3 separate regions of the Homo sapiens genome follow, and regions 1 and 2 are each linked to region 3. The links come from fine-mapping of genetic effects on gene expression. A gene starts in region 3. Each other region holds a variant in brackets. All regions are shown on one strand. Distances are from middle to middle.

Region 1 (2,766 bases), 41 kb after region 3:
GGGAGCACAGTGGGGAGGGAAGTAGCTGATGAGGCAGGGAGATGGTGCGGTGGAGGTGCACAGTGGCGTGTGTGGGAGGAGGCAGGGCCTGCAGAGTCCATAGGCAAGTTTCAGGAATCAGAGTTCCAAGGTGAGTGGCCATCAGAGGGTTTGGAGAGGAGCAGATATGATGGGCATTTGAAGTAATCCTCCTGCCTCCTGGCTGCTGTGTTGAGGAGGGAGGGAGGGAGGTAGGGAGAGAGAGAGAGGGTGAGAGAGAGAAGAGAAGAGAGAGAGAGAGAGAGAGAGAGAGTGTGTGTGTGTGTGTGTGTGTGTGTGGAGAGAGAGAGAGGGTGAGAGAGAGAAGAGTGTGTGTGTGTGTGTGTGTGTGTGTGTGTGTGTGAAGGAGGGTACTTAGGAGGCTGTATAATCCAGTAAGTGATGATGGTGGATTGGTCCAAGTTATCACCTGTGGGGATGGTAAAAAGTGGTTAAGATTTTGAATACATTTTGAAAGTAGAGCCAACAGGATGTGCGGATGGATTAGATGTGAGGAAAAAAAAGACGACTGAGGAGGTTCTGTCCCTCAGCAGCTGTAAGGATGAAAGTGGCATCTATTGAGATATAGAAGATAGGAGCAACATTTTGGGGGAAATATCAGAAATTTGGTTTTGAATATGAGAAGTATGTGATGTCTATTAGACATCCAAATGGAAATGTCTAATAAGCAAATTGGATAAGCAAGCCTGGAAGTCAGAGAGAAATGTGCTGAAGTCAAAGCTATGAGGCAGTGACGTGAGACAGGTTTGAAGATTAAGTCCTGAGCACTCTGTGCTTAGAGGTTAAGGAGATAAGGAGACACCAGCAAAGGAGACTGAAGAGGAGTGAGCAGTAACGGAAGAGAGAAACCAGCAGACCGTTTCCTGCAGGCTGGGAAAGAAAGCGAAACAGGAAGGAAGAAGTCCGAACCACACCAGATGCTGCTGGCACGTCTGCACGAGGACTGAGAACTGACGAGTGGGTTTGGCGATGAGAACGCCGGAGGGGCCTTGGCAAGCAGTTTTAGCGCAGTGAGGCGGGAAGTCTGATC[G/A]GAGCGTGGAAGTAGAGGAACTGAAGATGGGGAATAGAGGCAGCTTTTCATGGTAATTTTATTATAAAGATAAAAAGGAAGAGCTTTGGGGCATTTGAGGTAAAACATCTTTACTTTTTTAAGATGTGGGAAATGGAAGCTTGTCTAATGATGCAAATGACTCAGTGAAGGGGAACAAGCCAGTGATGCAGGGGACAGTTGGTAGAGCAGGGCCCCTTAGTAGGTGGAGCAGTGGGATCTAGTGACAGAGCAAGGGCTCTGCTTTCTATAGGGTCTTGGACCTTTGATCCAGAGAAGATTGCATCCACAGGCCTCTCTGTAATAGGCAAGGAGACGTGGTGGGGAGAGCTTGTGGAGGTTCTTTTCAAGTGATTCTGGTTCTCAGTGAAATAGGAAGTCATGTCAGCTGAGGATGAGGATGAGAGGGGAGATGTCAGGCTTATGGGGAGAAGTATGAGAGTCCTGTAGGAGAATGAGCAAACTAGGAGAATGTGGTAGGACTGCAGGACAGAACAGAGGGCCCCATTTTGAACATGAAGCCATACAGAGTGGTAGCATTCAAAATAGACTACAATTCTTTAACTGAAAAATAATGGGGGCCTTGTTTTCTATGGACAGAATTCCCCTATAACCAGTACCACCACCCTATGCCAATTTATTGAATTCTTAGAATCACAGGAACTCTTTCCAAGTCCTGTCCTTAATTTAGTATTTAGGGGAAGATCCCACTCTAGAATAAAGTAAAGGAGCATGGATCCAAGTGATAACTTTTTAGGGTCCTTTCATTCTCCCATTAATTAGCAATTTTCCTGATGCTGTCCAGATCTGTGAGGCATCAAACTGCCCAGCCACCTAACTCCAGACACACTCTAATGTGTGTGGTGTAGGTATGAATTCCTCCATTCCTCTCTGTAGACTTCAGCCAAAGAGATGATGCATCTCTATCTGGTTTCACTTTTGTGTGCTGTAGGCAAAAATGTCATTTCTAAAAATTTAAGCAACAGCACATAATTTTAAATGGACTCTGAGATATTCAGCATGTATCATTGAAGCACATTTTTATGTATAGTATGCTGTGATGACAAGTGGGTGTGTGAATTTTCCCTGTTTATCACTGAGGGCTTACCTGGGACAGAGACACATCATATTGCTGGTGTGGTACCAACAGCCTGCCCAGTTATCTTCAGGCATGAAATAAACATTTTCCTAGTATAGTTTCTTTCTTTTCTTAAAAGAAAATGTACCGTAGGTTTATATGTACATTGGCAAGGCTATCAGCATTGCTATTTTTTTTATTTTTTCCATCTTCAGCATTTGCTATAATTTATGTCTAAAGAAGAAAAGACTATCGTGTGTAATGTTCATATGTAATTGCTTAGAAAGTATTTGGGGCTTTTATTTTTTATAAATTACCTACAGTAGCTTGGAGAGGAAACTTTTAAAAATTGACCACCACCTAGCAGCATCTTGTCCTAGGCCAAGTAGCCTAGGGTTTGAGGCATATTGGAGGTCTCAGCACCCTGCCCTCACTTCTCCAGGGCCAAAAAGCATCTGGTCAGCCTCATTCTGATTTTCAAGTTATAGTTCTAATCAAGAGAATTATTACAGCATTATTCTTTGGCCCAGAGTGCATTACAGTAAGCCAGAAAACACCAATCTGTTGGGTCTCTCTTACCAGAGACTTGGAAGTCATGATT
Region 2 (2,766 bases), 29 kb before region 3:
CACCTCCCAGATTCAAGTGATTCTCTTGCCTCAGACTCCCGAGTAGCTGGGACTACAGGCATGCACCACCACACCCGGCTAATTTTTGTATTTTAGTAGAGACAGGGTTTTGCCATGTTAGCCAGGCTGGTCTTGAACTCCTGACCTCAGGTGATCCACCCGCCTCGGCCTCCCAAAGTGCTGGGATTACAGGTGTAAGCCACCGTGCCCGGCCTGATTTAAATGAAGAACTGATTGCATTTGAAACCATTTTGACCAATAGAGGAGATAGTCAAGTATTGCTGGAAATAAAATGTTTTCTGCCAGTTGCTTTTGGTTTCAGCAATCTTGAGTAGAGATATCATTGAAAAAGAAATCTGATAGGAAGAATTCAAGGCAAAGAGACCATTGTGGTTGAAGAGGCCTATCATTCTAGACAGAGATGGGAAATGGCATTGCCTAACATCTAAGTTAATCTAGACAGCTGCAATGGTCAGGAGCCCTTGTTCTGCAGCCTCCACTGCCCAGTTTCAAGCCACATCTGCTGTATTATATTAACCTTGTCCACCTTTACCCTGTATGACACTACTATAATTAGGTTCCTTCTCCCTTCAGGTAAGAAATCATTAAAAAATTTTTTGGTGTTCCCATAGACTTTGTCCAAGCTTAGGCGTATTATTTAGTTGGTCTGAGGAAATTGTACCAAGTTTGAGTCTGCAATTTTGGGCAGAGAGGTTTACTCCATGGCAGAACAGAAACCCACACCTGAATCTCCCTGGTTCAAATATGAAGCCACACTTTGCATGAGTAAGTACTTCTGTGGTTCAGAGGCAGCTCTCACTACCTCTATGGGAGCTAACTCTCATGCGAGTGGTTTGAGGTTTCCTTCTCTGAGGTGAGTGTTGCTTCCTGCAGATAAGCGACTAAACATCTCAAATCAGGGTGTATCACATTTTCTATGAAGGTGATATTCAGTGAAGAAGACACTGGTCCACATAATTTCTATTTGCAGTAGACTTGTTTTTTGATTTATCATCGTCATCCTGAAAGAATAGCTTTCAACAGCAGGTTTCTGTATACTTTTGGTCTGTGA[G/A]TCCATTTCAGTGAACATTTTCTAAACACTGTCATTGGGTTCACTGTTTTGACAGGTCCAGTAGAGAAAATGGTCCTTTCAGGAGCAACATCTAGTTTATTTTTCCTGTCACTTTACTGTAGTTTAGATACATTTGCTTCAAGTTGCATGGGTTGTTTTGTGTATCTCAGTCACTTACTTCCTTTTTCAAAAACATCAGAGCAGTAAATGGTGCAATTGCTGCTGAATTTTTTTGTGTACTTTATTCCCCTGATTAAGAGTGTGTAAATTCACTGATTCAGATGCTACATAACAATAAACCTAAAAATAGTAATATCAATATTTATCAATGTTTACTTGGTAAATGACAAATTTATCATGACCTTAAATATTTTAAAAATTAAATATTACTGCAAATAGAGTCACAAAAAATGACTGAGCATTTTGGGTTGGATTTTCAAAGTCTTAATGGAATGAGTAAGTCTGGTTTCTTAGTACTAATCTCTCAAAAAATCAAGGTGTTTGGGAAAGAGCCAATATTATAATGAGCTTGAGGAATATTATCAAATTAGTCCTGGTTGATGCAGTGACTGTCCTAACTTGTGAAGCCACTAGTCTCCATTTGAAGATGTCAACATCAAAAGTGAAACCGTGCCCACAGTGCTCCAGGCAGTGAAGAGGAAACCAAAATGAAAAAGCCTCACCCCCATGAGCTTCTAATTACAGGGAAATAATAGGTAGGAGATTGTAAGGGACAAATGAACAGAAATAACAAGATAATATTGAGCAAGAAGAAATTTTAGAATGAGCTCAGGAAAATAATTCCATCAAACTTCTCAGTATAATCACTGGAGCCATTATACTGCATAATGTTGTTGGGGCTATTAGTATTAATAATAGTAATCATCATTACTACAAGTGCAGTGGAGAGAACAATTTTGCAGCTGTAGAAAGATAGTACAGATAGACTTCAAGAGAAATGTCCCTTCAGTCACATGATGCCATGTACAATATGAATTCTAAGAAAAAAAGATCCTAACCATTTAATTACCAAGAAAATGCTGCCTGACCACATTCGAGGGAAGTGTCTTCTTTACAACCATACTCTTTTAATTATAGAAGATAATTTTTTTTTTTCGTTCGGGTCTCACTCTGTCTGCTGTGGCACAATCATGGCTCACCGCAGCCTCTACCTCCTGGGCTCAAGCGATCCTCCTATCTCAGCCTCCCGAGTAGCTGGGACTACAAGTAAGCCCCACCCCACCTGGCTAGTTTTTGTTGTTGTTGCAGGTCTTGCTATGTTGCATAGGCTGACCTTGAACTCCTGAGCTCAAGCAGTCTCTCACCTTGGCCTCCCAAAGTGTTGTGATTATAGGAGTGAGTCCGGCAGAGAAGATGATTCTTAATATAACTGACTCAGCTGAAAAAACACCAGAACCGAGAAGGGTCGTTTTACTACTTGTTAGTTAGTAGCACATTTATCCATCTTACTATTTTCTTTCCTCTTTCAGAAATAACCTGCAAAATAAGTTTACCTTGTAACCCTGTGTAAGAAATCAGGTAAAGGGTATAAAATAGAATTTTAGATAAAAATTAAGATGTATAGATTATTTAATAGAGCATTTTTATAGAAATTTTTTATTGAGATAATTGTAGATTCACATGCAGTTGTAAGAAATAATCCAGAGAATACTTTCTACCAGTTTCCCTCATTT
Region 3 (2,766 bases):
ATCTTTAGTGAAACACATTCTTTTATAGGTATATTTTAAAGTTTTAACTTCTGAGATAATATCACAGTTTTCAAAACACTAAGACATGTTTTTATTGTTAGCTAATTGTCAGGCTTCAGCTGAAGCACACCGTAAGGCCTGCATGAACTTCAGCTGTCCATAATGCGTAAAAGACCAAGTGCGCAAGGCAAACAGATCTTGCCATGGTTGCTGATGAAAGAAACTTAATCTCTTGGGGCCTGAGTTGCCTTATCTGTAAAGTAAGGATAATCCTTGCCTTACAGGATTATTGTGAGCTCCAAATAAGATAAACCTCTTGGCACACAATAGGTGCTTAAAAAAAAAATGCCAGCTATCATCACTGAAGTGAGCTTTTTCTGAGAGCAAACCTGTTTAACTCATAAATTTCTTTCATTGATAAGATGTAACCAGTGGAGAAACTTGGGGCAGGCACACGATGCCTCTCTGCACTATCGCTGCAACTTCCTGTTAATGTATACTTACTTTTTCTTCCATTTAGAGCTCTACAAGAAATACCTGTGTACCATTTTGCGTGCCTCCTTCTGAGGCTCAGTGGGCTATGCTCAGAGAATAGAGATAAATGTCTGCCCTATGTAGCAGAAAGGCAGTTATACATTTTAGAATGATGTTTTTCCGAAGAAATGACAAAAGCCAGACGAAACAGACTGACACGGTCACTGTGGTTTGGAATGTTAGTTTTTCTCTTTGGCTTTACTACTTTTGGCTCTACACTGTAGAGGAACCAGTGTCCTCATGAAACAGCCAGTATAAAAGCAAGTAGCTTACTTCACAGGAATAGCTAATAACATTTAATTGTTGAGCATTTAACCAAAACCCACTCAGGTCAATTTAAGTGTAGTGCAGTGGAAGAAATTATTGCACACTGCAAAGTTGTGGTGCATTTTACTTAAATCTACAAAGGCCAACAGAAGTGCAGTGTAATATAATAAATTACTGCAAAATATAATCATAAGGGGAGAAGGTGGCTGTTTTCGAAGCCCTTGGCCCCAAGGTAACTGAGGTCATCCCCCTGAACCCCCCAGCACACATCCTCATTATTTCAGCATTTGTACTACAGGGGGCTACAAGACTTCCGCCCCACAGCAATGGGGTGAAAACGTGAAGTGATCGGAGCCCCCAGATAGAGGGGCCAGCAATAGAAGAAAAGCTGGGGCAGGCTGGAGGAGAGGGGCTGTGGAAAAGGTTGCTCTCAGCATCATACACGCCTTATCCTTCTAGGTCGGGTATCCACAAATTCCCAAAATTTGCGAGAACATAACCCTGGAGAAGGTGGGGGTGACCCACGGAGGAACTCCCTGGAAAAGCGGAGGCGGCCCCAATGGGAGACTCCCGGGGGTCAACTCCGAGGGGAGGGGGCGTCTGCGAGAAAGGGGAGGGGCGGCGGTGGGCAGCCTAGGGAGGAGAGGAGGGGCGAGACGCCGTCGCCAGCCCCCTCCTCTTGTCTGCGCTCCCTTCGTTTCCGTCTCGGCCGGGCACCCGAGCGCATCCCGCCGAGGCCGGGCCGTTTCAGGGGGAGGCGCCAACTCATCGCGGCGCCGGGCCCCTGACCGTGCAGTAACCGCTACCCAGGAGGCGGAGCGGACAAGGCTCCGGCCTGCGAGGAGGTAAGAGGGTGGAGGAGTGGTGTGGGAGGCCGAGGGGGATCGCGGCCGTGACGTGGGATGCTGTCAGGTACCACTGGGGCAGGCCACCCCTCCCCGCCCCTGCGGCCCGACCTCCCCGCCAGAGACAGCTGAGGGGCCCAGGGGACTAGAGCCGCGACCGTGCCACAGGCCTAGGCGTCGTCGCGCATGCGTAAAACTGCTGGCGGGAGTTAAGAGCTAGGTTCCGGGGCTACACCCAGCCCAGGCCGCAGGCAGAGGCGGCCCTGCGCATGCGCAATTCCGCTGGCGTGGGCCCGGTGCGCTGCTCGCGACTACATCCTGCCCAGGCCGCCGGCCCAGGCTGCGCTGCGCATGCGCGAGTCCTCTGGTAGGGGTCGCGTTTGGCGTCGTTCCAGGGTGATCATCTGCTCGGAGGCCGCTCTCATCCTAAGCTCCCACGTCTGGTGTGGCTGGGGGGGCGTCACAGGTCCCGAGGGAGCGTCCTGCCTGAAGTTTCTCCCTCCTAACCCACTCGCTGCACTGCATATGTTGCCGATGTTTTCATTTCTGTGGCCTCGACCCCTAGGCTCCCGTCCCATAAATCTAGTACCCCAGGTCCCGGGCACCGGCCCGGCTCACTAACTCAGTGGCAGTATATGCTTTCGACATTTGGTCCTGATGTCCAGGAATAGCGCGAAAAGTTTGACTTTGTTAGGCGAAGCCGTTTTGGAACTGCGGAGGGATGGGAAGAAATCGCCGAGCGTCTTAAGCCGCAACATAGTGCTCTGCTCAGCCCTGGAAATAGAGGTTTTCAGACATTGAAAACTTTCCAAGTGCTCCGTCTTGGCGGAGAAAGAACTGAGTTGGAAGGCTAATTTAGAATGAACTTTTTGCTTTTGTTCTTTGCAAAAATTACATAAAATGTTGCAACAGTTCGAGACCAGGACTATAACAAAACGCATTTCATGGAGCTACTTTGTACCGCGCTTGGCGACTTACCTTGTCAGAGCTGAATAAAAGTGGTTGAGTTCACAAACAGTGCTCTGGATCGTTGCTCTTTCCCCCAGACACTGTTTAACGTTTATTGAGCCTCCTGGCTTTGCACCTTCCTAGTATTGCGTTCCTGCTGGGTTTTACACCT

The links. PIP is the estimated chance that this variant, and not a neighbour inherited with it, causes the effect.
Region 1: its variant is fine-mapped to the expression of RCBTB2 in whole blood (TOPMed, PIP above 0.99).
Region 2: its variant is fine-mapped to the expression of RCBTB2 in whole blood (TOPMed, PIP above 0.99).

What each region holds. Positions count from the first base shown.
Region 1 is chr13:48,490,842-48,493,607 of GRCh38, reverse strand. All of the region lies in intron 14 of RCBTB2 (RCC1 and BTB domain containing protein 2), which reads left to right. Among named protein-coding and RNA genes, the nearest start is that of RCBTB2, 41 kb to the left of the region's middle. RefSeq lists an enhancer at 48-127. The variant G/A (reference allele first, on the strand shown) is at 1,070.
Region 2 is chr13:48,560,553-48,563,318 of GRCh38, reverse strand. No RefSeq gene overlaps it. Among named protein-coding and RNA genes, the nearest start is that of LINC00462, 19 kb to the left of the region's middle. RefSeq lists an enhancer at 1,624-1,723. The variant G/A (reference allele first, on the strand shown) is at 1,073.
Region 3 is chr13:48,531,908-48,534,673 of GRCh38, reverse strand. RCBTB2 (RCC1 and BTB domain containing protein 2) reads left to right here and starts at 1,594. Exons shown (of 15, transcript NM_001268.4): 1 at 1,594-1,646. It overlaps LOC124903174 (a long non-coding RNA gene), which reads right to left. Exons shown (of 2, transcript XR_007063795.1): 1 at 2,625-2,766. RefSeq lists silencers at 1,379-1,428, 1,539-1,938 and an enhancer at 1,979-2,218.